Regions from separate parts of the Homo sapiens genome. Here region 2 is linked to region 1. The links come from fine-mapping of genetic effects on gene expression. A gene starts in region 1. The other region holds a variant in brackets. All regions are shown on one strand. Distances are from middle to middle. Region 1 holds the start of SDHAF2 (succinate dehydrogenase complex assembly factor 2). Region 2 holds the start of CD5 (CD5 molecule).

Region 1 (12,116 bases):
CCAGCAGAAATAATTTTTCCTTCCTTTGCACTCCCTTAAAATTCTTACAGTGTGGTTTATACTCTACTCACTCACCTGTGTCAAATCCTGAGCACACAGAGACAGCATGATCCCTAATCCCCCAAAGGCTCCCAATCCAGAGAAGTTGACAACTTATCAAGATATGATGTCAAGGTGGTGACCTCAGCAAGAGGTGAAGATGGTGGAGTAGGAAACCCCAGATCCTCCTTCCCCGATGGAGACACTGAGCCAACAGCAACAAACAAACCAATTCCCTGTGAGAAATCCAGAAACCAGTAAGAGGCTCCTGCTCCCCAGGTGAGCACAAAACCAGCTGCATCGAATCCAGCAGAAAAATTTGTAGCACTCATTTGCCATAGTCTCTTCCCTCCCTGCTCAAGCATGATCATGAGATAACCCCCAGCTCCTAGCTTCTACCTGAGACAGAAAGAGAAGACTGAAAAGTATGTATAATGTTCGGACTTTTGGGGGGATCAGGTTTCTGTTTTGTTTGAATCTAAGTGCTAACAGAAAAGGGCAGCAGGTTGAGGGAGAACAAAGAACCATGGAGAACAAAGGTGACAGTTTAGACTGGCAAGCACTCACTCCCTCATCACTCATCCTTGGCTCAGTGCAGAACAAGCAGGAGAAAACTCCCACCTCCCAGCTTCTCCCTAGGGAGGGAAACAGGTGCAGTATGCATCCAACATTCTAGCTTTTTGGGGCTCTCTGGGGGACTGGTTTCTGTCTCTAAGCACTTGAAAGGATCTAGCACACTCTAAATGCCTGGGTGGCCTGCTGCTGATCCAGAGGATCCCTGAAACTGCAGAGAAAGGCCAATACAGCCCAGTGGCCTCTCCCAGGGTTGAGGGGAGTGGAGTGTGCATCTAATATTCTGACTTTTTTTTTTTTTGAGACGGAGTTTCGCTCTTGTTGCCCAGGCTAGAGTGCAATGGCGCGATCTCGGCTCACCACAACCTCCGCCTCCCAGGATCAAGCAATTCTCCTGCTTCAGCCTCCCGAGTAGCTGGGATTACAGGCATGCCCCACCACGCCCGTCTGATTTTGTATTTTTAGTAGAGACAGGGTTTCTCTATGTTGGTCAGGCTGGTCTCGAACTCCCGACCTCAGGTGATCTGCCTACCTTGGCCTCCCAAAGTGCTGGGATTACAGGCGTGAGCCACCACACCCAGTCGTAACATTCTGTCCTTTGGGGAAGCTACCAGAGGGACTGGTTTCTGTCTTGCCCAGCTTGGGGCACTGATGGGACATGGCATACTCTAAAAGTCTGGAGGCCACCGACAGCTGGGAGACTTGTAGCAGCTCCAGAGAAACTGCAGTATCATACGCAGACACTAGAGGGAGCAAGAGATTATGGGCTCCTGAAAAAGGAAACCGGCAAATCCCTCTAAATGGGAATTTACATCCGCAAGTCCAGAAAAGACACATCCTCAGTAAAGGATTGAGAGGCCCTTGGAATCTCTATCCATGCTGACTAGTGAAGGCCAATCACCAGTACAAAGACCAGGAGAGACAGATGATTTTTCAAATGTAGAAATCACCAGTACAAGTTACCAAGCACATGAATAAAGAGGAAAACATGGTCCTATTAAAGGAACGAAATACATCTCCAGAAACTAACCTTAAAGAAACAGAAGTATATGAATCACCTATAAAGAATTCAAACTAGCCATAATAAAGATGTTCAATGAGCTTTGGAACATTGAGAACTTGAACATTGAGCTTGAACAAAATGAGAAAACCAAAAAAAAGACAGAAAACATTAAAAAATAACCAAATGAAAATTTTGGAGCTGAAGAATACAGTAACTGAATTGAAAAATTCACTAGAGGAGGCCAGGCACGGTGGCTCATGTCTATAATCTTAGCACTTTGGGAGGCTGAGGCTGGAGGATCGCTTGAGCTCAGGAGTTCGAGAACCAGCCTGGGCAACACAGTGAGACCCCGTCTCTAAAAAATAAAAATACATAAAAATTAAAAAATTAGGCCCGGCGTGGTGGCTCATGCCTGTAATCCCAGCACTTTGGGAGGCCAAGGCGAGTGGATCAAGAGGTCAGGAGATCAAGACCACCCTGGCTAACAATGGTGAAACCCCGTCTCTACTAAAAATACAAAACATTAGCCGGGCATAGTGGCGGGCGCCTGTAGTCCCAGCTACCTGGGAGGCCTGAGGCAGAAGAATGGCGTGAACCCAGGTGGCGGAGCTTGCAGTGAGCTGAGATCGTGCCACTGCACTCCAGCCTGGGCAACAGAGCGAGACTCCGTCTCAAAAAAAAAAAAAAAATTAAAAAATTAAAATAAATTAAAAAATTCACTAGAGAAAATCAATAGTAGACCTGATCAAGCAGCAGAAAGAGTCAGCAAACTCAAAGACTGGTCATTTGAAATTAGTCAGGGTTTTTTCTAAAAAAAAAAAAAAAAAAAGGAATGAGAAGGAGTGAAGAAAGCCTTAGGGACTCCATCAAGGAGATCAATATACACATTATGAGAGTCGTATAAGAGAAAGACAGGGGCAGAAAGCTTATTAGAAGACATAATTGGCTGGTCTCAGTGGCTAATGCCTGTAATCCCAGCACTTTGGGAGGCTGAGGTGAACGGATCACCTGAGGTAAGGAGTTCAAGACCAGCCTGGCCAACATGGCGAAACCGTCTCTACTAAAAGTACAAAAAGTAGCCAAGCATGGTGGCGCGTGCCTGTAATCCCAGCTACTGGGGAGTCTGAGGCAGGAGAATTGCTTGAACCCAGGAGGCAGAGGTTGCAGTGAGCTGAGATTGTGCCATCGCACTCGTCTCAGTGATAGAGTGAGACTCCATCTCAAAAAAAAAGACATAATGGCTAAAAACCCCCAAAGTTGGGGAAAGAAGTGGACATCCAGATTCAAGCCTAACAGATCTCAATTAACATGAACCCAAAGAAGTCCATACTGCGACGTATTTTAATCAAACTGTCAAAAGTCAGAAAAAGCTGGGTGCAGTGGCATGACCCTATAGTCCCAGCTACCTGGGAGGCCGAGGTGGGAGGATTGCTTGAACCCAAGAGTTAAAGTACAACCTGAGCAACAAAGCAAGATCCTATGTCTTTAAAAAGTCACAAAAGAGACACCAAGGATGTGCATGCACAGAGAAATGTGAGGACACAGTGAAAAGGTGGCCATCTGCAAGGCAAGGAGTGAGGCCTCGAAAGAAACCAAACCTGCCAACACCTTGCTCTTGGACTTCTAGCCTCCAGGACTATGAGAAAATTAATTTCTGTTCTTCAAACCACACAGGTTATAGCAGCCCTAGTAAACTAATACAGCATGCGATGAAAATTCAGATTCCCAAGCCCCACCATAAACATTCTGGATGAGAATCTCTAGGACTGGGCCCTGACGAATGAATTTTTAACAACCCTCTAAGAGATTCTGATGCAGACTGAAGGCAGGGATTCCTACTTTCTATACTAAAATAACATGATTGAGTAATTTCTACAGAAATGAATGCGGATGGGGAGGACTATCCTCATCAGTACAAGGAAATTGTTCTAATAATTGGGATGTCTTATTATTTTAGCCAAATTTCACCCATTTTTTTCTGTTAGTATCAAGGCAGCATTCCATAAAAGAAACAATAATGGTTGTCACATAGTTCCAGGGAATTGTGTGATACTGGTATGAGTTGTGTTAAATTATCACTGGAGGCCGGGTGCGGTGGCTCACGCCTGTAATCCCAACACTTTGGGAGGCTGAGGTGCGCGGATCACGAGGTCAGGAGATGGAGACCATCCTGGCTAACACAGTGAAACCCCATCTCTACTAAAAATACAAAACATTAGCCAGGCATGGTGGCGGGCGCCTGTAGTCTCAGCTACCCGGGAGGCTGAGGCAGGATAATCGCTTGAACCCAGGAGATGGAGGTTGCAGTGAGCCAAGATCGCGCCACTGCACTCCAGCCTGGCAACAGAGCGAGACTCCGTCTCAAAAAAAAAAAAAAATTAAATTAAAAAAATATATAGAGAGAGACAAGTACAGAATACTATAATACTGTAACTGTGGTATGTAAGTCACTTTTAATTTTGGTATAGAAATTAAAGACAAAGGTATAAAAACAACTATAAAAATTTGTTAATGGAGACAATATAAAAAGATGTAATTTGTGACATCCACAACATACAAGGGGGTCATAAAAGAGCAGAGTTTTTGTATGCAATGGAAATTAAGTTATCAAAACAGATTGTTATGTTTTATATAAGCCACATGGTAACCACAAAGAAATACCTGTGTAAGACACACAAGGAAATGAGAAATTCGTTTCTCAAAGTATGTCACTACAAAAAAAAAAAAGTCAACGAAATATAAAGGATGACAAGAGTGGAAAAGAGGAGCAAAAAGGTTGTAAGACAGAGAACAGTTTACAAAACGGCAACAGCAAGCACAGTTGGCCCTCCGTATCTGTGGGTTCCACACCTGTAAATTCAACCAACTGCACACTCAACCAACTGTGGATCAAAAATATTCAAAAGAAATAAATAATACAACAATTAAAAAACAACTAAGATATAGTATAACAAGCATATACATAGCCTTGACATTGTTTTCGGTATTATAAGTAATCTAGAAATAATTTAAAGGATATGGAAGTATGTGTGTAGATTATATGCAAATACTATGCCATTTTATATAAGAGACTGAGCTTCTGCAGAGTTTGATATCCACAGCGGATCCTACAACAGTCATCCCATGGATACAAAGGGATGATTGTACTTCCCTATTTTATTTATTTTTTGAGACAAGGTCTCACTTCCAATGCCCAGGCTGGAGTGCTGTTGCAAAATCAAGGCTCACCGCAGCCTTGACTTCTCAGACGCACTCCCGCCTCAGCCTCTCAAGTAGCTGGGACTACAGGTGTGTACTACCACACCTGACTAATTTTTTTTAGTAGAAAAGGGGTTTTGCCATGTTGCCCAGGCTGGTCTCGAACTCCAGGACTCACACGATCCACCCACCTCGGCCACTATTTACTTTAGGTATAAATGGATTAAACTCCAGGCCTGGCGCGGTGGCTCACGCCTGTAATCCCAGCACTTTGGGAGGCTGAGGCGGGCAGATCACGAGGTCAGGAGATCGAGACCATCCTGGCTAACACGGTGAAATCTCGTCTCTACTAAAAATACAAAAAATTAGCCAGGCGTGGTGGGGGGCGCCTGTAGTCCCAGCTACTCCTAAACCAGGAGATTGGCGTGAACCCAGGAGGTGGAGCTTGCAGTGAGTCGAGATCATGCCACTGCACTCCAACCTGGGCGACAGAGCGAGACTCTGTCTCAAGAAAATAACATAACATAACATAACCTCCCCAACCAAAAGACATGAAGTGGCTGAATATAATGAATTAAAAAAAAGATTCAACTATATGCCGCACAAGAGACATTTTATTAAAATCTGGAAATCAATGGCAAAAGAAAAGGTGGAAAATTCACAAATATGTGGAAATTAAACAACACACTCTTGAACAATCAATGAGTCAAAGAAGACATCAAAAGGAAAATTAGAAAATATCTTGAGACACGCCGGGAATGGTGGATCACACCAGTAATCCCAGCACTTTTTGGAAAGCTGAGGCAGGAGGATCACTTGAGGCCAGGAGTTTGAGACCAGCCTGGGCAACATAGTGAGAACCTGTCTCTACGAAAAAAAGAAAAAAGAAGGGAAACAACAGGCCGGGCGCGGTGGCTCACGCCTGTAATCTCAGCACTTTGGGAGGCCGAGAAGGACGGATCACCTTAAGTCTGGAGTTCGAGACCTGCCTGGCCAACAAGGTGAAACCCCATCTCTACAAAAATACAAAAATTAGCCAGGCATGATGGCGATGCCTGTAATCCCAGCTACCTGGGAGGCTGAGGCGGAAGAATCGCTTGAACCCGGTAGGTGGAGGTTGCAGTGAGCCAAGTTCGTGCCATTGCACTCCAGCCTGGGCGACAAGAGCAAAACTCCGTCTCAAAAAAAAAAAAGGAAAACAACAAAAAACAAACAAAAAGGAAATATCCTGAGACAAACTAAAACCCAACATATACAAAATTATGAGATGCGACAAAAGCTGTACTAAGAAGGAAGTTTATAGTGTAAACGCCTACATCAAAAAAGAATAAAGATCGAGTCCCTGGGTCTGCAGGAAAAAAAAAAAAGAATAAAGATAGGGATGGGGGTAGGAGGGGAAGATAGAGGCAAAGTTAGTTACTTTATAACAGCAGGCTAGGAAAAAAGAATAATAAGTTCCAGTGTTCTATTACATATTAGAGTGACTACAGCTAATAACACTGTACTGTATATGTCAAGATGCTAGAAAAAGATCTTGAAAAGTTATTACCGTAAATAAATGATAAAGATTTGAGGTGATGGACATGCTAACTACGCTGATTTGATTATTCGATGTACACATGTATTAAAACATTATACTGTACCCCCATAAACACGTACAATTATATGTCAATTATAAACAAACAAAAAGCTGAAGATACTATGTGAAACCACGAAAAGCATTAAAGACTAAAGAACGGGGAGAAGGGGAGCCCAGGGAAGTTGGGCTAATCCCGCCTGGGACGTAGGTGAGAGGCGAATTGGGTCTTGGACGATGACTGATCGTTTAAGCAGATATTTCCAGACCGGCACACAGTAGGCTCACCAAAGAATGGAAGCGACCTTTATTTCCTGAGTTGCAGGATCGGCCTCTCCCTGGGCCTGCCCTTGCCCTGCGCTATCGGGCAGACGAACTCTCCCCAAGATAGAGACCACAGAGGAAGACAAAGGGTAATCCCCGCTGCCGCCCGCCCCGGACGCTAGAACGTTCTCTCTCCTCACCAGCGACGAAGTCGAGAACACTGTAGACACCGCCATTTTCCCCACCTGCACCGGAAACCGGCTGCGCGGGCACTTCCGGGAACTCCTAGCCGCCCGGCCAGCCGACCACGGCAGCCACGGAGGAGCTGAGCCGGAAGGTGCGTCCCTGCGCATGCCGGAAGTGGCGGTGCGTGTGACGCCGGCGGCGGGGGGGGCGGGACCTGGGGCGGAGAGCGGTTCGCGCGCTTCGGGCCTAGTCCGGACTCGCCGCCGCCGCCGCCATATTCCCGGTAACGGGGGCGCGCGGTCGGGGGCAGGTTGGGCCGGAAGAGGGGTCCGGGCCGGCACTGAGGCGGGAAGGGGGTCGGTTGAGATGGGACGGCCGGAGTCTGCGGGCGGAGGGAGTCGCGGGCCTTTTGAGGGAGGAGGCAGAGCGCGCCGGGCCGGGTTTGTCGGGAGGGAGCGGGGCGGGCCTAGCTGGGGGCGAAGAGTAGGCCTGGGTTGGGGGCAGAGGCGGCTGGAGCTGCTTGACACCTGGGGGCTCTGGCCGGAGCCGCCTTGGGGGCTAGGCAGGTGCAGCGGATAGGGGCTGCGGGCTTCGCCGCGGTCATTCTTCGCAACGCCGTCCTAGGGCCACTAGGACCCGAGGGTGGGACTTTTCCGTCGCGCCATAGGCAGCTGCGGCGCAGACGCGGCGCTACCCGGGTCGGGCCCGAGGGTGATGGGCAGCGACCCCCGGCGGCCTGGGAGAGCGGTGGGCGGCGCGAGGCCGGGGGCGGGGCGGAGCGGGTGGGGCCGAGCTGGGGCCGCCAGGATGCTGCGTCTCTGGAGATGGGAGGTTAGCAATCATTACCCTCTTCCCAGCCCAGGACCCTCGTGCCTTCTAATTCTTGCATTTTTCCGAATCCCGCAGTGGCATCTTCCTTACTTTGTCCATCCTCCGGACTCGCGATCTTCCTTCCGGAGCCATGTCAGAAGGAGTGGACTTGATTGATATATATGCTGACGAGGAGTTCAACCAGGTGAGGTGTCATCAGGAGCTTTGGGATTTTCCTTGATCATCTGAGGAATCATTTTCAGCAAACTGGCAGTGGTTTCAAGCTGTACCAGTCCTAGGCTTGAACACGCGTCTATCCGGTCTAAAATTTTTCTCCTGCAGAAACTTTAAAGACTACACTCCATTCCTCTTTATGTTAATTTGAAGCTCCAGGCTTAATTTTAAAGGCTTTGATTTAAGAGCAAATAAAAAGCAGGTGTAATAGAATGGTGAATCAACCTGTGGAATTTACTCCCCAGGAAGCCAAAGGTGGGTGTCAGACTAACCACACTTAAAAATCAAAAGTACATTTGCTACGGTATTCATGAGGACAGTGTTGATACCGGTTCCTTTACATTCTCAACCTGCAGCTGGAGAAGTGTAGTCCCCTCCATCGTGACAGTGCAAAAGCAAAGTAGAAAAGATGACTTTAACATTTAGTTTCAACTCCATTCCAATTAAGTTTTACTTCCTTTTATAAGTAGGTTGACTCCAGTCATGAGAAGTCCACAGGCATTTTGGTATAATAAATTGTATTGGTTACCTTTAGTCTTTCTAGAGGGAATAAAAGAGTAAAGACGTTAGACAAACCAGTTAGAAAACTGATAATAGACCCATGCACATACCCTCAGTTGGATTTGTTTTTATTGTACCAGGGAACATTATACAGAAATTTATCTAGAGCTGGGCAAGGTGGCTCTTGACTGTAATCTCAGCTGCTCTGGAGCCTGAGATGGGAAGATTACTTAAGACCAGAAGTTCAATACCAGCCAGGGCAACATACCAAGACCCAGTCTACAAAAATGTAAAAAAAAACAACAACGAGATATGGTGGCTTGTGCCTGTAGTCCCATCTACTCTGGAGAGTGAGGCAAGAGGTACTCCCTGAGCCCAGGAATTCAAGGCTGCAGTGAGCCATGATTGGGCCGCTGCACTCTATCCTGGGCAACAGAACAAGACCCTGACTCTTAAAAACACAAGAAAAATTCTCTCAAAGAAATAATCTTCCATGCAGTTAAGTTTTTCAGTCTTGAGGTCAATTCTCAAGAATGTTCCAAAATTTCTATTGAAAACGTACTAATATCTTGCCTGGGTTATTTTCAGCACCATTCTATGTAAGTAAGCTGGCTCTTCCCATTTGCATCTTCCAGTGGGTACACATAAGGACCTGGTAAGAGCATGTATTGAATGGGTTAGAAAGGGAAAGTTCCCTGGTTTGACCCTGACTTTGATATGAGGCAACAGAAGAGGCGGATACATGCCATTTATTTTTCACTTGGCATAAGTTTACATGAAAATCTATTTTTTGATGTATTATGGTTTTATAACATGGAAATTATAAACCATACACAAAAGCAGAATAATGTAATGACCTTGTACCCATTATACAGCTTCACCAATTATACTTTTTAATGGCAGGTTTCTTGTCTCTGTTGTGGTTAACTGTGGTCCTTTAAATATAGCTGCTGATTATCTTAAATAGATGAATTTTCCTTTTTTTTTTTTTTTTTTCTTGAGACAGAGTCTCTCTCTGTCACCCAGGCTGGAGTGCAGTGGCGCGATCTCGGCTCACTGCAACCTCTGCCTCCCAGGTTAAAGTGATTCTCCTGCCTCAGCCTCCTGAGTAGCTGGGACTACAGGCGTGGGTCACCTCACCTGGCTAATTTTTGTAATTTTAGTAGAGACGGGGTTTCACCATGTTGGCCAGGTTGGTCTCGAATGCCTGACCTTGTGATCCGCCCGCCTTAGCCTCCCAAAGTTGGGATTACAGGCGTGAGCCACCGTGCATGGCGAAAAAATTTTTTAGTTTTAAATAAGTCCAATAATTATGGATAAAAGAGAAAAGTTCTAGATGTTAATTTAGTTACAAAATCATTGTTTTCCTGAGTTTTCCATATTCATTTGAATCAGACTTTTAATACCTTAAAAAAAAAAACACACAGTCTTGCTGTGTTGCCTAGGCTGGTCTCTCAACTCCTGAGCTCAAGCGATTCTCCCACTTCAGCCTCCCAAACTGTTGGGATTATAGGTGTGAGCCACTCTGCCCAGTTCAGACTTTTTGCAGATTATGTTTTTCCCCCACCAAGATAACAAGAGCGGTCCTTAGTTCTTCTCTTTTTTTTTTTTTTTTTTTTTTTTTTGAGACAGAGTCTCTCTTTGTCGCCAGGCTGGAGAGCAGTGGCACCATCTTGGCTCGCTGCAACCTCCTTTTCCCAGGTTCAAATGATTCTCCTGCCTCAGCCTCCTGAGTAGATGGGACTACAGGCGCGCGCACCGCCATGCCCAGCTAATTTTTGTATTTTTAGTAGAGACGGGGTTTCACCATGTTGGCCAGGATGGTCTCAATCTCTTGACCTTGTGATCTGCCCACCTCGGCCTCCCAAAGTGCTGGGATTACAGGCGTGAGCCGCCGTACCCAGCCACCTTTGTTATTAATGAAAAGCTTTTCCCCTTCTAATTTCTTATCTGTGGATTGATAATAGTGCCATTCATTTCACTTTGAGAAATACGCAGAACTCATTGTCCAGTGGTCACTGCTTTGTTAGAGTATAAGTTATTGGCCTCAATAGTTTGTTCTCTGGTCTCCTCAGTTAAAAAGGACTTTTTTATGGGTCTAAGACAGGCTAAAGGTAGTATGTGGACTTTAATAGATACATATATCCAACGGGCAATATTTGACACTAGGCAAGCTGAAGAAAGTGTGAATTTTGAATATCTTATGTTTTGTGGAAGGTGAGGGATGAGTGCTTCCCCCCCACACACATATCAATTAGTTATTTTTGACAAAGTTAGTGTTAGTGTCATCTGGAAGCTACAGAAATTATTTAAAAAACAAAAAAACAAAAAAACTTTGGCTAGAATTGTTAGAAGCTGGCTTAGTCTGAAGGCACCCAGTACAAATTGTGTTTTAGAATGTTTTAAGAATGTTACTGATTTCGCCCCAAGCTGGCCCATGCACAGGAAGCCCTTCATGTGCACTTTGCTCCTCAAGGAAAATTAATATTTTTCCTAGATGGAACCCTATGGTGCTTATTCCCTGATCTCTTAGAGCATTTGCTGCAAAAGCCTGTTTTTGCCAGAGCTACTTTATTCCTGTAACACAGGGAGTCCTGGGATTCACATTGGCTCTCTTGGGCCAGGGAGAACTCTGGAAAGGTGACTGAGATCAGTTGCTCTGCTGGGAGTTTTGGCTTTTCATACTGAGACAGGCTTTGCACAGTGTCCAGTTCTCTTCCTTATGTCCATCAATAAGTATTTATTTATTGAGCTACTTGTGTTTGCTAAGCACTGTGCCAGGACTAGTGAGGTAAAAGGAAAAAAAAGTGGGTCCCTGTACTCAAAACAGATTCCACTCCTGGTGGGTAGGGGTGGTGGACAACGACAATGTACAGTGAAGGACAAGGAGGGTGTGAAGTGGGAACTGTGGAAATGGTCATTATAAAGCCAAAATTTTTGATTAAGCCTTGGTTACAATTAAAAGAAACAATGGTATCAAGTTGGTTGCTCTGAGAAAAATAAATCCTAGGCTAGTTACTTCCCTCAGTGGGATATGAGGAAGAAGAGGGTGGAGGTTAGGAACACTGAGCAGACAAGTGGAGAAGATCTTATTTAAATTGAAAATCACACATGTTCTCTTTTGTTTACAGGGAAGCAGGAAGTTTCATGAGACAGTCACAGTTCTTTCTGTGCCATTAAACACAAAATTCTTTGAGATAGTTATTCAGTATTAAATATATGTTTCATGTTTAATCTCCCTGGAATGAAACTTTGAACATCAGTGCATGTAAAATGTACTTTTCACTTAATTTGTAGAATTTGATTTTACTTTAATCTATTACTGCATAAATCCGCTGAGAAAAATCTCCGGCCCTTAACTGTGTTTCTGTCTTACTAGCTGAACAAGTAAAATGAATTGTGATGCTGGGGGATTAAAATCCAAACAATTTGATACCTTGTTTCTTCAGTAGAACCCTCAACAGACCTGCCCTGTGCAGTTCCCACCAGCTTCTTTGAACTGAGGCTCTGTGGCCCAGAGAGACCATTTAAATCTTGTGATAATTTTGTATTCATTCAATCCTTTTGTTTCTAAAAGTGGTAGCCATACCAAGATTCTCCAGGATCTAGTCTATCCTATTCTTAAGGGATCTTAAAACAGTGGATTGGTTGCCTAAGCATATAGTACGAAGGGTTTCCTGGTGATGCATTTGGTCTCTGAGCTGTCCAAATCTGCATGTTAGTCCACTACTC
Region 2 (16,506 bases), 320 kb after region 1:
TACCCTTTTCTTCCGACGAGGACACTCTGGGGCCAAAGCTCAGGGCCAGGGCTCGCCAAGGGCACTTGGCTGGTTAGAGGGAGAACGAGCGCGTCTCAACACCTAACATTGGTGGGGTGATTTGCAGGCTGTCCGCCCAGCGAGCTGGCTCGTTGCCGCTTCACCAGGCAAGAGATTTTCTTCCCATTTCACAGCTGGGGAAACGGGCTCAAGAGGTCAAGCAGTGTGCCAAAGCTTGGAGCTAGGATGTCAGTGCAGGGCCCAGATCGTGCTTAGGGCCTGCCAAGGCCCCTGTCACCCCCTCTGGCTGCACAGTGGCATCTCAAGACCCTTCAGCCACAATTCTCCCCAGGTACATTCAGCACGATGTTATCCCAGTCAATGTGAAGGAGAGGTCTGTGGTGAAATAAGGGTGCAAAGTGCTGGGTTAAAAAGTGTCATGTATTTCTTCGCTGCAGGATTTCTCAGATCCTTTACTGGGCCGGTGTACACTGTCAGTCTTCAGTGGGAGATGCGGTGTTGCCTGCCCTTTGTCCAACATGCTCCATGGAACCCTATTTGGGAAACAGCCTCTACGACTAAACTCCAACGTCTAAGGCTGGACGTTCCACACACTTTACCATCAGTCTGCGGCCTCTCTCTGCAGACTCCGCTCTAAACATCTTTGACCATGGAGCATCTGTCAGGATTGGGTGGGAAATAAGACTTTGCAAGGTACATTTATGAGCTGGGATGTCTTCTGTGCATGGTGAGCGGGTCATAATAATTATCATGAGATCTGGCATTTGTGGGTGATTTACGGCTGTCGAGGGCACCCACCTGCATGTGAGCATCTTAATGTGCAGTGTCTGCATCTATGTGCCTGTGTGTATGCTGGGGTTCACTCTCTCTATAGGGTGGGGTTCACTCTGGCAGAAGTGATGGCTTCATCGAGAGGTCCCCGATGGCCTGATGAAACCACAGCCCCACTCTCCCCCTGCCCCAGGCCTTTCTCCATGTGGCTCTTCCTTACCTGGGTCATACCAGCTGAGCCGTCCGAGGCAGGAAGCGACTGCAGAAAGAAGAGAGGAGGGTCAGGAAGTGAAACCTCCCACTCTCTCCCTTCTCCCCAGCTCACCCACCCACAGCCCGAGCAATGGCCCTTTCTGCCTCCCCCTATCCACTATCATGGGTTTTAGGGACAGGAATTTTCATACTCCAGGTTGGAACCCCTGAGTGATATGAATTCTATCTAGTGGGCTGCAACTATCGATTTTTTTTCTTCTTAAAAAACGTTACTTTTAAAATGAACAGACGTGAAATTGATTTTTCTTTACTGCATGATTCCGTGAATGTCACATATATAGATGTGTGTGACCACCATCACAATCAAGGTATACACCAGTTCCATTACTCCCTACCTCAAATTCCCTCATGCTAACCTTTGTAATAATGTAACCATCAATTATTATTATTATTACTTTTTGAGACAGGATATCACTCTCCTCACCCAGGCTGGAGTGCAGTGGCATGATCACAGCTCACTGCAGCCTCAACCTCCCTGGCTCAAAGAATCCTCCCACCTCAGCCTCTTGAGTAGCTAGGATTACAGGCATGAGCCACTATGCCTGGCTAATTTTTTTACTATGTATGTGTGTATGTATGTATGTATGCATGTATGTGTGTGTGTATGTAGAGATGGGGTCTCACTATGTTGTCCAGGCTGGTTTTGAACTCCTGGGCTCAAGTGATCCTCGTGCATCAGCTTCCTGAAGTGCTGGGATTCACATGTGTGAGCCACAGCACTCAGGCCATCAATTTTTTTAAAAATGAAATGGAGTAGAATAGAGAGGCCGTGCACGGTGGCTTATGACTGCAATCCCAGCACTTAAGGGGGCCAAGGTGGGAGGACCGCTTGAGCCCAGAAGTTGGACCCTGCAGTGAGCTATGATTATGCCACAGCACTCTAGCTGGGTGACAGAGTAAGACCCTGTTTTTTTTTGTTTGTTTTGTTTTAAATAAATAAAAAAGAGAATGTCAGAATGCACTGATCACTTTTTGTGTGTTGGGGGTTGCAATGTAAAAATGTCCCGCATGTTTCCACTCAAAAAAGTTTGAGCTCCTTAGTTCTAGAGAATGGAGAAATGATCCAGAAAGGGGCCGGGCACGGTGGCCCATGCCTATAATCCAAGCACTTTGGGAGGCCGAGGTGGGGGGATCACTTGAGGTCAGGAGTTTGAGACTGGCCTAGCCAATATGGTGAAACCCTGTCTCTACTAAAAATAACAAAAATTAGCTCGGCGTGGTGATGCATGCCTGTAATCCCAGCTCCTCTGGAGGCTGAGGCAGGAGAATTGCTTGAACCTGGGAGGTGGAGGCTGCAGTGAGCTGAGATTGCACCACTATACTCCAGACTGGGTGAGAGAGTGAGATTCTGTCTTTACAAGAAAAAAAAAAGGAAAGAAAGAAATGAGCAAGAAAGGGAACCAAGAGAACATTTGCTACTTTCTAGCATTCCCAAGGCAGGATAAGAATGACAGCCACTTATCTTTAACAGCTGCCCATTTCTGGAGAAGACCAAGCTCAAAGAGATGGCGTGACCTGCCCACAGTAGTGTAGCCAGCTAGTTGACAAGGGAGCCAAGGCGACAGGCCCAGGGAACACGGGTCTGCAGGGAACCAGCCTTCCCCCATGTGGACCACGTGGAAGCTCTGCCTCCTTGTAGCCTGGTCTCACTGTGGAGTGGGGGCAAAGTTGCCCATTGCGGGGCTCTCAGCAGAGCAGCTCATCTGTGGCTGGGGAAGAGGTTTAATTTGGGTGGGGACGAGGTGAAGTAGCAAGCTCACGTGGCTTCAAAGCTTAACCTCTGTATTCACCACCTAGCGTGATCAGTTAGGTGCAAGTACGGTATTTTGATTTCCATCTGTCCGACTTGGGTTTACTCTTGGATTTACGGCACTGGGTCAAGGAGACTGCTTTATATATTAATAGTGAAAGGCTGTGTTCAAATTGTTTGTGAGAAATTTTTGCTTGGTGTTAAAAAATAGGTGTGTTTAGCTGGGCCAATGGCTCAAGGCCGTAGTCCCAGCTACTCAGCAGGCTGAGGCAGGAAGATCACTTGAGCCAAGGAGTTCGAGTCCAGCCTGGACAACATAGCAAGACCCCGTCTCTTAAAAAATAGGTGTGCTTTGAAAAAGCTGTTCTTGCTTGAGTGTTCTCAAGCTGGCGGTTGAATTTTAAGGGGTGATGTGCTCCACAGTTCATCCTTGTCCCCGAATCAAGACTCTTTGTAATGAAGTCATCATGGCCATGTGATAAGTTTCCCCTGAATCTGCAAGATCCTTTCGTGGCTGTTGCTCTAGGAGTCACGGGCCTTGGAAGGGGAAGGTTATTCTCACCAACAGGGAAGTGTACAGAGCTCTGGCCTGGGTGGAAAAGGATGGTCTAGTTGTCAATCGTCTGATCAATTTTTTCTTTTTTTTTTGAAACAGAGTCTTCCTCTCTTGCCCAGTCTGGAATGCAGTGGCATGATCTTGGCTCACTATAACCACTGCCTCCCTGGTTCAAGCAATTCTCCTGCCTCAACCTCCCGAGTAGCTGGGACTACAGACATGCACCACCACGCCCGACTAATTTTTGTACTTTTAGTAGAGATGAGGTTTCACCATGTTGGCCAGGCTGGTCTTGAACTCCTGACCTCAGGTGATCCACCCCCCTCAGCCTCCCAAAGTGCTGGGATTACAAGCATGAGCCACCGCGCCCAGCCAATCATCTGATCTATTGCAGTGGGCAGGGCAGCCTCAGGAGGCCATCAGGGAGATGTCCAGCTAGCGAGAGAAATCAGGAAGGAGGCCCTTTTGTCCTGCCCTCACCTCTCACTCCTGACCTCTCATTCCCACCTCCCTCTCATCCCAGCTGCCCATCAGGAGCAGGGCAGTCTGCCTTGAAGGAGTCATCCCTCTGGCTAAGTCTCGAGGGCTAAGGCAGCTTGAAGTGCCACCTGTGGGGAGTGGGAGTCCAAATATCTGCCCTTCAGTGCTACACAGCTCAGGATGGGTTTTCAGTCACCGATGACTTTCTACTGCTCCAGTTCTGAGTATCAGCTCTGCCACTTCCTGCCTATAGAGTCTGGGGAGCACGTCTGTCCTGTCTCTGTGCCTCCAAGCCACGATTTCCTCACTCATAGCATGAGGATGAGCATGGGACTAGCTTTCTAGAGCCGTTGTGAAGATGAGATGAGCTAATCGGTGTAAAGGGCTTAGCCCAGTGCTTCCTGGCCTAGTGCTCAGAGCTGGTGCTACTGATCTGTGGAGTAGGGTGGGCTGGGGGAAGCTGTGCCCAGGGCAGCAGACCCTCGGGGAGCTTTCCCAGTGGGAAGATTCCCTGTCCAGGAGCACAGAGAGCCAAGCCATGGGGCTCACCACTTCCTTCTCCTAACTTGGAAACTTCGCGCAGATGGTCCAGACTTAGGGTGGTTCAACTTACGACTTTTCAAGTTTGCAATGGGTTTGTCGGGGTATTAAATGAATTTTTGACTTAGGATGTTTTCAGCTTACAATGGGTTTATTGAGAGGCAACCCCACTGTAGGTCAAGGAGCATCTCTATTTCCCGAGTCATCATACTCAACGTTCATTATTAACAGCAGCTGCCAACTGTTGAGCACCTGCTGCATACTTAGCCCACGGTATGGTTCATCACAGATATTGTTGTTAATCTTCCACACAGCCCCATCACGAGAGTTGAGTACGTTCCTGGTATAAATGTCAGGAGAGGGCAAATGCCCTGTCCCGGGTAATATGGCTGGCAGGTGGAGTCGAACCATGTGTCTGACTCCAAAACCCATGCTCTCTGCTCCCAGCCACCCAATTGCTCCTCCAGAGTGCCAGCTTTGGAGATGCAGAGATGAACACCACCTGGGTCTGACCTGGAAGCGCTCGTGCAGCCAGACCCTGAAGGCCTGGGGACAGGGACTGGGCCTGACAATCTTGGCAGATTCCACACAGAACAGCCTAGGTCTTGCTCAGAGAACATTCTCAGGAAAGACTGAACAAGCTGGAGAACCAAGTGAAATTCTTTAAAAAATGCTCTAACAAATGCTTTAATAAAAAAGATATTTATGCATTCTAGAGTGTCGCCCTGGAACCTTCCTCTGGGTGCCTGTCTGGTCCCCAGATGAGCAGCAGTTCCTCTCCTCTCCTTCCATCTCTATCACCGTCACCATCATCATCACCATCACCGTCACCATCATCATCACCATCACTGTCACCATCACCAACACTTTAAAAGTTTTCACTCTTCCGGGCCTTTTACACATTAACTCTCCCAGTCCTCACCACAGTGCTATGAAGTAGGTGCTATTATTTTGGTCCCGATTTTACAGACCAGGAAACTTGAGAGGGGTTAAATGACTTGTCCAAGCAGCTAATGAGTGCTGGGGCCCGAACTCAAACCTAGCCGCCTGGCACTGAGTCTTGAGCTTTTGCCAGTGAGGCCCAAACTGCCTCCCTTCCCTCCAGCAGGAAGCCCATGATGGCCTGCCCCAGGTTTCATTGATTCCTGCACCACCCTGGTGTGCAATCCTGATCAAAGGGAATGAACTTGTGATTCCGTTCAGTCAGTAAAACATGCAGTGAGAAGACTTAGCTATGAAGTGCTGTGTGACCTTGGCAAGCCACTCAGCCTCTCTGGGCTCAGTTTCTTAATCTGTAAAGTAAGGAAGTTAGATTCCACAGTCCCTCACCTTCCCCCTGGTTCAAACACCTGTGATCTATAATCTTTAGCTCCTGATGGATTTCAGCAGCTGGTGGAGGGAGGGCGGTGAGATGTACAGCTGACTTGGAAGCTTCCTGAGTGTGTTGTGTATATTCTTTCAGCCTGTCCATGAATATGTTCAGGTTTTTTTTTTATTTGCTTGTTTGTTTTTCACTTATAATCTAGGGAGCAGAATGAACATTGAGGTTTTGAGGGTCCATAACCTATTTCTATTTTTTAGTTGCTTCTCACAGGGGTCAGACCAGCACCCTCCATCCCCTGAGCCCTGCGGTCTGTGTTCAGGGTCTCCCTGACCCCCTCTGGGGGCTCTACAGCTTACTCCTGCACCATCCTTCCTAGCCTCATGAAGCCTGAGGCTCCTGCTATTGCCAAAACTGTGGACAGAATCCCCGAGACTCCAGACCAGGAGGCCCCCGAGGCCTGGAAGTGCTATGCCGTTTCCTTATCCGCCAGCCACCCCTCACCCCGAGCAACTGGGGCTACGGATGAGAATTCTCTGAAGACCCCTTCCTTCTCCTGCCCACCTCCCCTTGCAGCTCCCACAATTTAGGGCCTGGACTGGGCAAACCCAGGCAAAATTCAGGGCTAAAGAAGTCAGACGGCTTATCACACCCCTGGAGCTCCCGTCTCTTGTCTTTGCATTGGCAGAGACAATATTTTTGGCCCTGCCTGCCCTGAGGTCTTGGTGAGGATATCCTCCTCCCTGTCCCTCTCATTCCTCTTGCCCCCACAGTATTCAGGATAATTCTCACTTTGGCTCTCATTACGGCATCCCATGAGTTTTATTTGCTCTGCACAGTGTTTAAAAATTTTTTGAGCCAAATTAAAAAAAAAAAGGTTTCTTTTAATTTTGTTTTGCTTTTTAAACACATTTCAAGATCCAGGCGTTTTTGAAAAATAGGACATCCTGGCTCCACTGGCTGCATCTCTGGAGGCCCCAGGCAGTGGCGGTGGCCCTTGACTTCTGTTTCGTCCACGCCTCGCTGGCACCTTACGGTCGCCATGTGTGTGGAGAGACCTGGCTTCAAACACATGGCAGTGTCTGCAGCGAAACATATGCAGTTTCACACTAAGGGGGATGTGTCAAGATTATAAATAGCCTCCCATTCGTTCAGGTCAGGATTTGCACCAAATGCATTTGCCAGAAACTTACAAATGTTTTTTGGGCTTTGGAATTACAGATGAATATTTGTTGACTTGCATGATGGGTCCCAGTTTACAGAGGAGGAGGCTGTCGTGGTGCATGGGAGTGAGAACTCGGCAGGGCCAGAATTCAGCCCAGGGCGGCTGGCTTTGTAACCTGCACTCCTGGCCCCTGCCTCTGGCTCACTCCTAGGTCCTGCCGCCCCTGCACCCTGGGAAATGGAGGCAAGGGTGTGGCCTGCTTAGGGTTTGGCAGGCACCCGGATTCACAGGCCTGTGATAATGACCGATGATAATAAAATGACAGCATCCTTACCCTGTGCAGACCCCAGGACAAGGATTTTTCACAGAAGACCCCATTTCTTTCTAGAGCCTCAGAAGACGGGGTGCTATCACCACTTTGTTCCACAGATAAAACACCTATGACTGATTTAGTGTAGTTTGCAAGTCAGGTGTTCCCTTTTTCCCGTAAACAGTGATTCCTTCTAACAGTCCACAGACCTCCCCATAGCTACAGCCATCGATGTCCATGAAATACAATAGATCTGCCTGTGTTTTGGGTAGGATTCTGGATTTTCCTTCCTCGAATCCTATATGTTGGCTGACTTGAAAGGTCAGAAGCCCCTCTTTTCTGAAACGACAGTCATCTGTAGAGTTGGAGCTGTATCAGGGCTTTAGGGAAACGAAGGTCGTAAAGGACCAAAATTCCCTTTCTTGGGTTGAGCACAGATGAAATGATTGGTTTATGATTAGGCGGCTTTTATGTGCAAAACACATATAGAGTCACACTGGGCTTACACCAGGAGAGGCCTGGGAATGGAGCCCGCAGGAAGGAACAGCAGATTCAGGTCTCTAATCTGGCTCACCCAGGGCCTGTCCCAGTGAGCGGACAGTGGGTCGTGGGCAGAATGACCTTTGCTGTTTGAATTGTTATTTCTCTCTCCCACTAGTAGTCTGCTGTTGCATGAGTTTCGCACCATATACGGTGTCTCTGCTGTCACAGAGACAAGGCTTTGGTTTTGTTTAGAGCTTTACCTACCCCAAAGCTCTCTCATGCACTAGACTTGTTCTTTCTACCCACAGCCCTGTGAAGAAGGGACCATGCTCACCTCCATTTTCAGATCAGGAAACCGAGGTTCAGAGAGGCTGAGTGACTTGCCCAAGGTCACACAGCTAGCTGGTGGTAGAGTCAGGAGAGAAACCCTGTCTCCATCACCTGACAGGGCCTGTGGGAGTCTACCCCAGGGAGGCCCCAGAGCCTGCTTGCTCTGGAGTACAGATGGGGGAAACTGGGGCCAGAAGGAGGGAGGGGTTCATTCCAGATGTCTCTGTGGGAATCTGTGGCAGTGCATGGGACCCTTGTCGTCTCTGCAGACTGCCACCACCCATTTCCTACGCTATTCCTACCGTATCTGTCCCCCGGAGAGGAGTATTAGGGTCCCTCTGGACACCATGAAAGTCAGGCCTTGAAAGGTACATGATGGTGATGATGATGCTGGTCACGGTGATAGTGGTAGCTATAGAAGAAGTGATCCAGGCCCACAGTCTCTTATCTGCAATTCAAAATCCAGAATCTAAAAGTCTTGTTCTAATGCATTTGGTGGGAGGGTGTTTGCTGTCTTTACATCCCTCTAAGTGTGCAAATTCATGTTTCACTGCAGAAATGGGAATGTGTTGAACGCAGGGTGCTGCCCCAGGCCTCACTGCGTGTGTTAAGAGCACACAGTATGTACACAGTATTTCCTTCTACAATCTGAAAGCTTCTGGAGTTCCAAATGCATCTGGCCTGGGGTTCAAGATGCACTTGAGGACCTGGAGAGGTGAGAGTTATGCTCACCTCTCTGCTCCTGTGTGGCTGTCCAGTGCATGGGAGAAAAAGCCCAAGTCCTCACGGGGGCATCCGTGGCCCTCGTGGCTGCCTCATCGATCCCCCACTGACCTGCAGCTGGAGGCCCCTCTGCCTGCAACGCTTCTCCTCAGGTCCCACACGGTGGGCTCACTCCCTTCTTTCAAATATTGACTCAAATATCATCTTCTCATGAGAGCCGCTGAATCCTCCCCAGGTACCTCACACCCCACCAAGGCTTCCGGTCCCAGCCCTCCTCTATCTGTCTGTCTCCACACCTCTCATGACCGTCTAGTATTCGCATAATCACTAGCTTAGCTTGTGTCTTGTTTGTCTCCCCATCACACCCTGACTATTATGCCAGATCCACCAGGGCAGGGATTTTCCAC[C/A]GTTTTGTTCACTGCTGTGTCCTCAGCACTTAGAACAGCATCTGGCACATAGTAGGTGTTCAATCCATACCTAGTCTCTGAATAAACCCGATGTAATTATTGCAGTGATCTTTTGAGGTGGACACAGCAAGGAACCCCTATTTTTATAGATGAGACCCTGAGAGATGTTCACTTGTGGGTGGCCAAGCAGAAATCAAACTAGGTCTGCATTGCTCCAAAGCTCCCCTCCACAGGGCTGTGCACATATGTGTTCATACGCAAACACAGCACATGGACACACACACACACAGTAGATGTTCAATTTCACACACACACACAGAATAGATGTTCAATCAATTTTGTCAGGTTGAGCTGAATTCGCCGCCTGGTCACTGCAGGGAAAACCCCTCTGAACTGATGGTGACAGAGTGACCCAGGAAGGCCAGGTCCCTTCCTGGGCCCCCAGGTCCCTTCATTCCCTGCTGGAGGTGGGGAGCTCTGGGTCTTCGAGGAGGATGATCCAACCAGGGCCTCGCCCAGCCTGGGACAGTGGGCCTGCTGCCCTGCTCCCAGTAGGAGCCCCACCCTCTCAGGCCTGTCCTTCCCCCTTGCCTTTGCCCTGCCATCCGCTCTGCCTGGGACCCTCTTCCCTTTTTTCTCTGCCTGGCTGGCTCCGTCCCTCATTCAGGTCTCGGATTCTCAGATGAGACCTCGCCTCCTTAGAGAGGCCCTCCCTGCCTGCCCAGCCAAAGGGATGTCCTCCTATCCTAGTGCAGACTGTATTGTGCCTGAGGAACTTGCTGTTCTCCTCATTGCACTCAGTATTTCAAAATGTGTAAATATTTCGGGTGCCTTTTTTTTTTTTTTTTTTTTGAGATGGAGTCTTGCTCTGTTGCCCAGGCTGGAGTGCAATGGCGCGATCTCGGCTCACCGCAACCTCCGCCTCCCAGGTTCAAGCGGTTCTCCTGCCTCAGCCTCCTGAGTAGCTGGCATTACAGGTGCGTGCCACCACTCCCGGCTAATTTTTGTATTTTTAGTAGAGATGAGGTTTCACCATGTTGGCCAGGCTGGTCTTGAACTTCTGACCTCAGGTGATCCACCCGTCTTGGCCTCCCGAAGTGCTGGGATTACAGGCATGAGCCACCATGCCCGGTCTTTGGTGCTTGTTTACTTGTGTTCTCTAACAGCTCTCCTGTTAGCTGATCAAATCCTTGAGGGCAGGGACTCCTGCCTTGGTCCCTGTATCCCCAGTGTTTTGCACAGAGCTGGATGCACAGGAGATGCTCAATAATATTTGTAGATGAAAAATGAATGAATTAGTGAATAAATAGCCTGTGCAAGAGGATTGAGGGGTAGAGAGATTGACGGCTGTGCAGGCCTCTGGCAAGACCCTCCTCCCCATTGGCTCCTACCTCGCATTGTTTCTTGCTGACCCTGGTAATAATAATAATCATAGTTGTTGCTGTTATTATTGTTTATTGAGTACTTACTATACTATATGCCAGGATTGTACTTAAGCTCTGTGTGCATTGATTCATTGAATCCTTATAAGCCTCTATGAGGTACTGTTGCACCCAGTTTACGGATGAGAAAACTGAGGCTTACAGAACTAGTCCAAGGTCGCCCAGTTGGTAAGTGGCAGACTGGAATTCAAACTGCAGAGTCCATGACTTTCCCACGTCCCAGTGCTGGCTTTCAGAGTCGCATCGGCTAGGCCAGTCAGGGACGTGCAGTTTGTGTTAGAGCCGCTTCCCCGCCTCACTGCCAGCAGCTGTCCAGGCAGGCTGGGGCTGAGAGGGGAGCAACTGTGGGAAGCCCTGGCCTGTCACTAGCACCCAGGCCTGCTGGGGGCATCTTCATGCCTCAGGATCCAAAGGTCCCCAAGCCCCGATGCCAGCCAGGAGGCTGTGGTGTCCCCAGGGCTCTGGCATTGCTGCCTCTCTCCTTGGAATGGCTCAAAGGGTGCCTGCACTGTTTGACTCCAGCAACCCTGGCCCTTGGTGTCCCCAGCTCTGGTGGCTGTATCTCTGCTGGTGGAGGTTGTGTCCCAGGGCCATTTTCCTGCACACGGAAGTGCCTTTGGTGGCCTTCCCTTTTAGCTAAGGGAGGGGCCTCTGTGAAGGCAGGAATGCTGGGCTGGGGTCAGCTCGGCTGTGCACCAGCTGCTGCACCCTGGGTTTGCACTCGGCCTTCCTGGGCCTCGCTTTTCCCCACTGTAAAATGGGGCCAATGGGCCCACCTACTTCATTGGCTGTTGTGAAGCTTGCAGCAGAAAATGGCTTTAAAAGTGCTTTGTAAACCGTTACCCACTGAACAAAGGGAATGCTTGGTACCCACCGGCTCACTCAGACACTGGGAACTGAGTATTCCTGGGGTTCAAGGAGGTCCCCATACTGGGGTGAAGGGGCTACCTCCAAGTCTTCCTGACTGTGGCCTGTGTTGGGCCAGGGGACTTGCCTGGTGCCATCAGGAGCCTCACCCATGATGGGATTCAGTTGGGAGGGCCCTAGAGCAGGACACGGGTTCCCATACTCAGCTGGGAGCCGCCCTATCTCAATGAAGTCTGAGGCCAGAGGTGAGGAGCAGGTGGGGGGTTTAAGGGCCTGGTCCCTCCTTAGCAGGGTCCCTGAAGCCAGCCAGAGGTCTGTCTCAGGCCTCTTACTTTGGGACAGAAGGCATTTTGTACCTGTTGTTGTTACATGTGAGAAGAACCATGTGAACATGTGTGCACAGGTGCCATTGTCACATGTGTTGGGGAGATAATCCTGCCTTTGGAGGCCGCATTGTGCTCATGAAAGCACACACACACAGTTCTCACACACATGCGCACAGACTCCCACACACAGACTCACACACAGACTCACACACAGACTCACACATTCCCCCCACACAGTACTCACACACATGCCCAGAGACTCACACACAGACTCACACACAGACTCACACATTCCCCCATACACAGTTCTCACACACATGAACACAGACTCACACACAGACTCACACGCACAGACTCACACTTTCCCCCCCACAAAATACTCACACACATGCCCAGAGACTCACACACAGAGTCACACATTCCCCCCCCACACACAGTACTCACACACATGCCCAGAGACTCACACACAGACTCACACACAGACTCACACATTCCCCCCCACACAGTACTCACACACATGCCCAGAGACTCACACACAGACTCACACATTCCCCCCCAGACAGTACTCACACACATGCCCAGAGACTCACACACAGACTCACACACAGACTCACACATTCCCCTACACACAGTACTCACACACATGCCCAGAGACTCACACACAGACTCACACACAGAGTCACACATTACCCCCCAACACAGTTCTCACACACGTACACACAGACTCACACAGACACACATAGACTCACACATTCCCCCACACACAGTTCTCACACACATGCACACAGACACACACACATGCATTCCCCCACACTCACACCTGCACACCCGGTTTCCCTAGAAGGCTGCTGAGGCTCCCTGCTCAGGCAGGCAAGGCCTCCGGACCCTCTCCCTGCCAGCCTGGAAGCTGCTCGCATCCTCCTGTTTCCAGCCCAGAGTCACGCACCTCTGTCACCCTGCCAGACCTTCTAAATCCTCAGGAAGTGGGTCAGGCCTCATCCAGTTCACACCCCCAACCCCCACATTTCATAAATGGGGAGATCAAGGCCTGGAGAGGCTTGGGGACCTATCCGAGGTCACACAGGGTTGGGCTTACAACCCAGGGCTGGAGTGAGAGCAGGCCCAGCGTGTACTCATCCCAGCCGGCCTGGCTGGGCCCCTCTGGGACTGACCCAGGACTGGGCATGAGAGGGCCTAGGACTTCCGCTATGAGTCCTTGACATTTGCTCAGACATCGTCCTCAGAGGCGGCTCCACCCTGCCTCGGCCCACTGTCTGTCCAGAGCATCATCAGAGCTGCCTCGGAGACGGCGAGTTTCCATGTCTCTGGAGGCGACCAAGTAAAGGCTGGGCTGTCAGTGGGGGACCTCGCAGAGGGAGGCCTGAATGCTCTGCTAAAATCCAACTCAGCCTAGGAATCAAGTTGTCTGGGCCCCATCAAATGCGGGTCCCCCCTGCAGTCTCTCTTGCACTGGAAGGGTAAAGCAGGGTTCTCAACAGCGCATGAGAGAGGCAAGGTTGTGCTCCTGGCGGGTGGGACATGCAGGACAGAGGGCCAAGCTGCGGCTTAGTGGGGGCAGGCAGGGATCCCAGTGGCCCCAAATCTCCACAACGCTCCAGAGGGCTGACATGTGGATCCCAGAGTCAGCCTTGGGTAAAACTGGGAACTCCTTCCTTGCACTGGAGCGAGCCCGGGTGTTCGCAGGACACCTGGGAGGGGTACTCACCCAGCATCCCCAGCAGGTACAAGGTGGCCAGCGGTTGCAGAGACCCCATGGGCATGGTTTCTGGCCTTCTCTTGCCTCAGCCTGGGCAGCTGGGCACCGCAGGTGAGGGTGTCTGGCCGGGTATCTCGCTCTCAGAGAGGGAGAGGGCGGGGTGGCGTGCTCAGGGAGGGGTGGGACGGGGAGCAGGCAGTGTGGGGCCTGCGTCACCCATGTTTGAAGTTGAACTGTCAACTTCCTCCTGGCAAAACCACCTGCCCCTGTTTGAATGGCAGCCCTGGCCTCTGCCAGCTTCCTGCCCAAGGTACCCAGGGCTGGGGCAGTGCTCTCGGCCACCCCCACACAGGACAAGGCCATGCATCCTGGAGGGACAGGGCTGCAGGGGGTGGGGACCCTGAGCGGGGGTTACGGAGGCTGAAGGCCTGGCTGCAGCTGAGGGCTGGGCTGAGGACAGGCGTCCCTGAGGCAGGGGTCTGGGTGGGGAGAGGCGGGAAATGGGCAGCATGATGCCAGTTCTTGTTGCAGACTCCAGTGAAAGCCAAAACCAAACCCTCCATTCCCCCTTTGTGAGGGATGAGGTTGGAAGTTTGAGCTGACTTTCCACAGGTGGTGTTTTGCTAGCAAGTACAAGAGATGGCTGCGCCATGAATGCTGGGCTTGTGCCAGTGTGTGTGTGTGTGTGTGTGTGTGTGTGTGTGTGTGTGTGTAGAGAGAGAGAGATCTCCATGTTGACTTGTGTGATCTCTGTGTTGTGTGTGTCATCTCTGTGTTGTGTGATCTCCATGTTGAGGTGTATGTGTGAGCTCCATGTTGAGTGTGTGTGATCTCCATGTTGATGTGTGTGTGAACTCCATGTTGATGTGTGTGTAATCTCCATGTTGACGTGTGTGATTTCTGTGTTGTGTGTGATCTCCATGTTGATGTGTGTGATTGTGATCGCCATGTTGATGTGTGTGTGATCTCCATGTTGATGTGTGTGTGTGATCTCCATGTTGATATGTGTGTGTGATTTCCATGTTGTGTGTTTGTGATTTCCATGTTGATGTGTGTGTATGATCTCCATGTTGACTTGTGTGATCTCTGTGTTGTGTGTGTGATCTCCATGTTGGGGTTGATGTGTGTGTAATCCCCATTTGATATATGTGTGTGTGATCTCCATGTTTGTGTGTGTGAATGTGATCTCCATGTTGATGTGTGTGAATGTGATCTCCATGTTGACGTGTGTGTGTGATCTCCATGTTGATGTGTGTGTGTGATCTCCATGTTGATGTGTGTGAATGTGATCTCCATGTTGATGTGTGTGTAATCTCCATGTTGATGTGTGTGTGTGATCTCCATGTTGATGTGTGTTTGTGATCTCCATGTTGATGTGTGTGAATGTGATCTCCATGTTGATGTGTGTGTGATCTCCATGTTGATGTGTGTGTGTGATCTCCATGTGGATGAGTGTGTGATCTCCATGTTGATGTGTGTGTAATCTCCATGTTGATGTGTGTGTGTGATCTCCATGTTGTGTGTGTGTGATCTCCATGTTGATGTGTGCGAATGTGATCTCCATGTTGATGTGTGTGTAATCTCCATGTTGATGTGTGTGTGTGATCTCCATGTTGATGTGTGTGTGTGATCTCCATGTTGATGTGTGTGAATGTGATCTCCATGTTGATGTGTGTGTAATCTCCATGTTGATGTGTGTGTGTGATCTCCATGTTGATGTGTGTGTGATCTCCATGTTGATGTGTGTGTGATCTCCATGTTGATGTGTGTGAATGTGATCTCCATGTTGATGTGTGTGTAATCTCCATGTTGATGTGTGTGTGTGATCTCCATGTTGATGTGTGTTTGTGATCTCCATGTTGATGTGTGTGAATGTGATCTCCATGTTGATGTGTGTGTGTGATCTCCATGTTGATGTGTGTTTGTGATCTCCATGTTGATGTGTGTGAATGTGATCTCCATGTTGATGTGTGTGTAATCTCCATGTTGATGTGTGTGTGTGATCTCCATGTTGTGTGTGTGATCTCCATGTTGATGTGTGTGTGATCTCCATGTTGATGTGTGTGTGTGATCTCCATGTTTATGTGTGTGAATGTGATCTCCATGTTGATATGTGTGAATGTGATCTCCATGTTGTGTGTGTAATCTCCATGTTGATGTGTGTGTGTAATCTCCATGTTGTGTGTGTGTGATCTCCATGTTGATGTGTGTGAATGTGATCTCCATGTTGATGTGTGTGTGTGATCTCCATGTTGATGTGTGTGAGTGATCTCCATGTTGATGTGTGTGTGTGATCTCCATGTCGTGTGTGTGTGATCTCCATGTTGATGTATGTGTGATCTCCATGTTGATGTGTGTGTGATCTCCATGTTGATGTGTGTGTGTGATCTCCATGTTGTGTGTGTGTGATCTCCATGTTGATGTGTGTGTGATCTCCATGTTGATGTGTGTGTGTAATCTCCATGTTGTGTGTGTGTGATCTCCATGTTGATGTGTGTGAATGTGATCTCCATGTTGATGTGTGTGTGATCTCCATGTTGATGTGTGTGAGTGATCTCCATGTTGATGTGTGTGTGTGATCTCCATGTCGTGTGTGTGTGATCTCCATGTTGATGTGTGTGTGTGATCTCCATGTTGATGTGTGTGAATGTGATCTCCATGTTGACGAGTGTGTGTGATCTCCATGTTGATGTGTGTGTGATCTCCATGTTGATGTGTGTGTGATCTCCATGTTGATGTGTGTGTATGATCTCCATGTTGACATGTGTGATCTCTGTGCTGTGTGTGTGATCTCCATGTTGGGGTTGATGTGTGTGTAATCCCCATTTGATATATGTGTGTGTGATCTCCATGTTTGTGTTGTGAATGTGATCTCCATGTAGATGTGTGTGAATGTGATCTCCATGTTGATGTGTGTGTAATCTCCATGTTGATGTGTGAATTTGATCTCCATGTTGATGTGTGTTTGTGATCTCCATGTTGATGTGTGTGAATGTGATCTCCATGTTGATGTGTGTGAATGTG

The links. PIP is the estimated chance that this variant, and not a neighbour inherited with it, causes the effect.
Region 2: its variant is fine-mapped to the expression of SDHAF2 in whole blood (INTERVAL, PIP above 0.99).

Annotation. Positions count from the first base shown.
Region 1 is chr11:61,424,920-61,437,035 of GRCh38, reverse strand. SDHAF2 (succinate dehydrogenase complex assembly factor 2) reads right to left here and starts at 6,912. Exons shown (of 4, transcript NM_017841.4): 1 at 6,854-6,912. The coding sequence starts at 6,889. It overlaps CPSF7 (cleavage and polyadenylation specific factor 7), which reads left to right and starts at 7,061. Exons shown (of 10, transcript NM_001142565.3): 1 at 7,061-7,122; 2 at 7,746-7,854. The coding sequence starts at 7,801. RefSeq lists enhancers at 6,782-6,841, 7,198-7,846 and silencers at 6,788-7,123, 6,982-7,151, 7,262-7,691.
Region 2 is chr11:61,099,601-61,116,106 of GRCh38, reverse strand. CD5 (CD5 molecule) reads right to left here and starts at 13,618. Exons shown (of 11, transcript NM_014207.4): 1 at 13,492-13,618; 2 at 1,013-1,051. The coding sequence starts at 13,546. The variant C/A (reference allele first, on the strand shown) is at 9,131.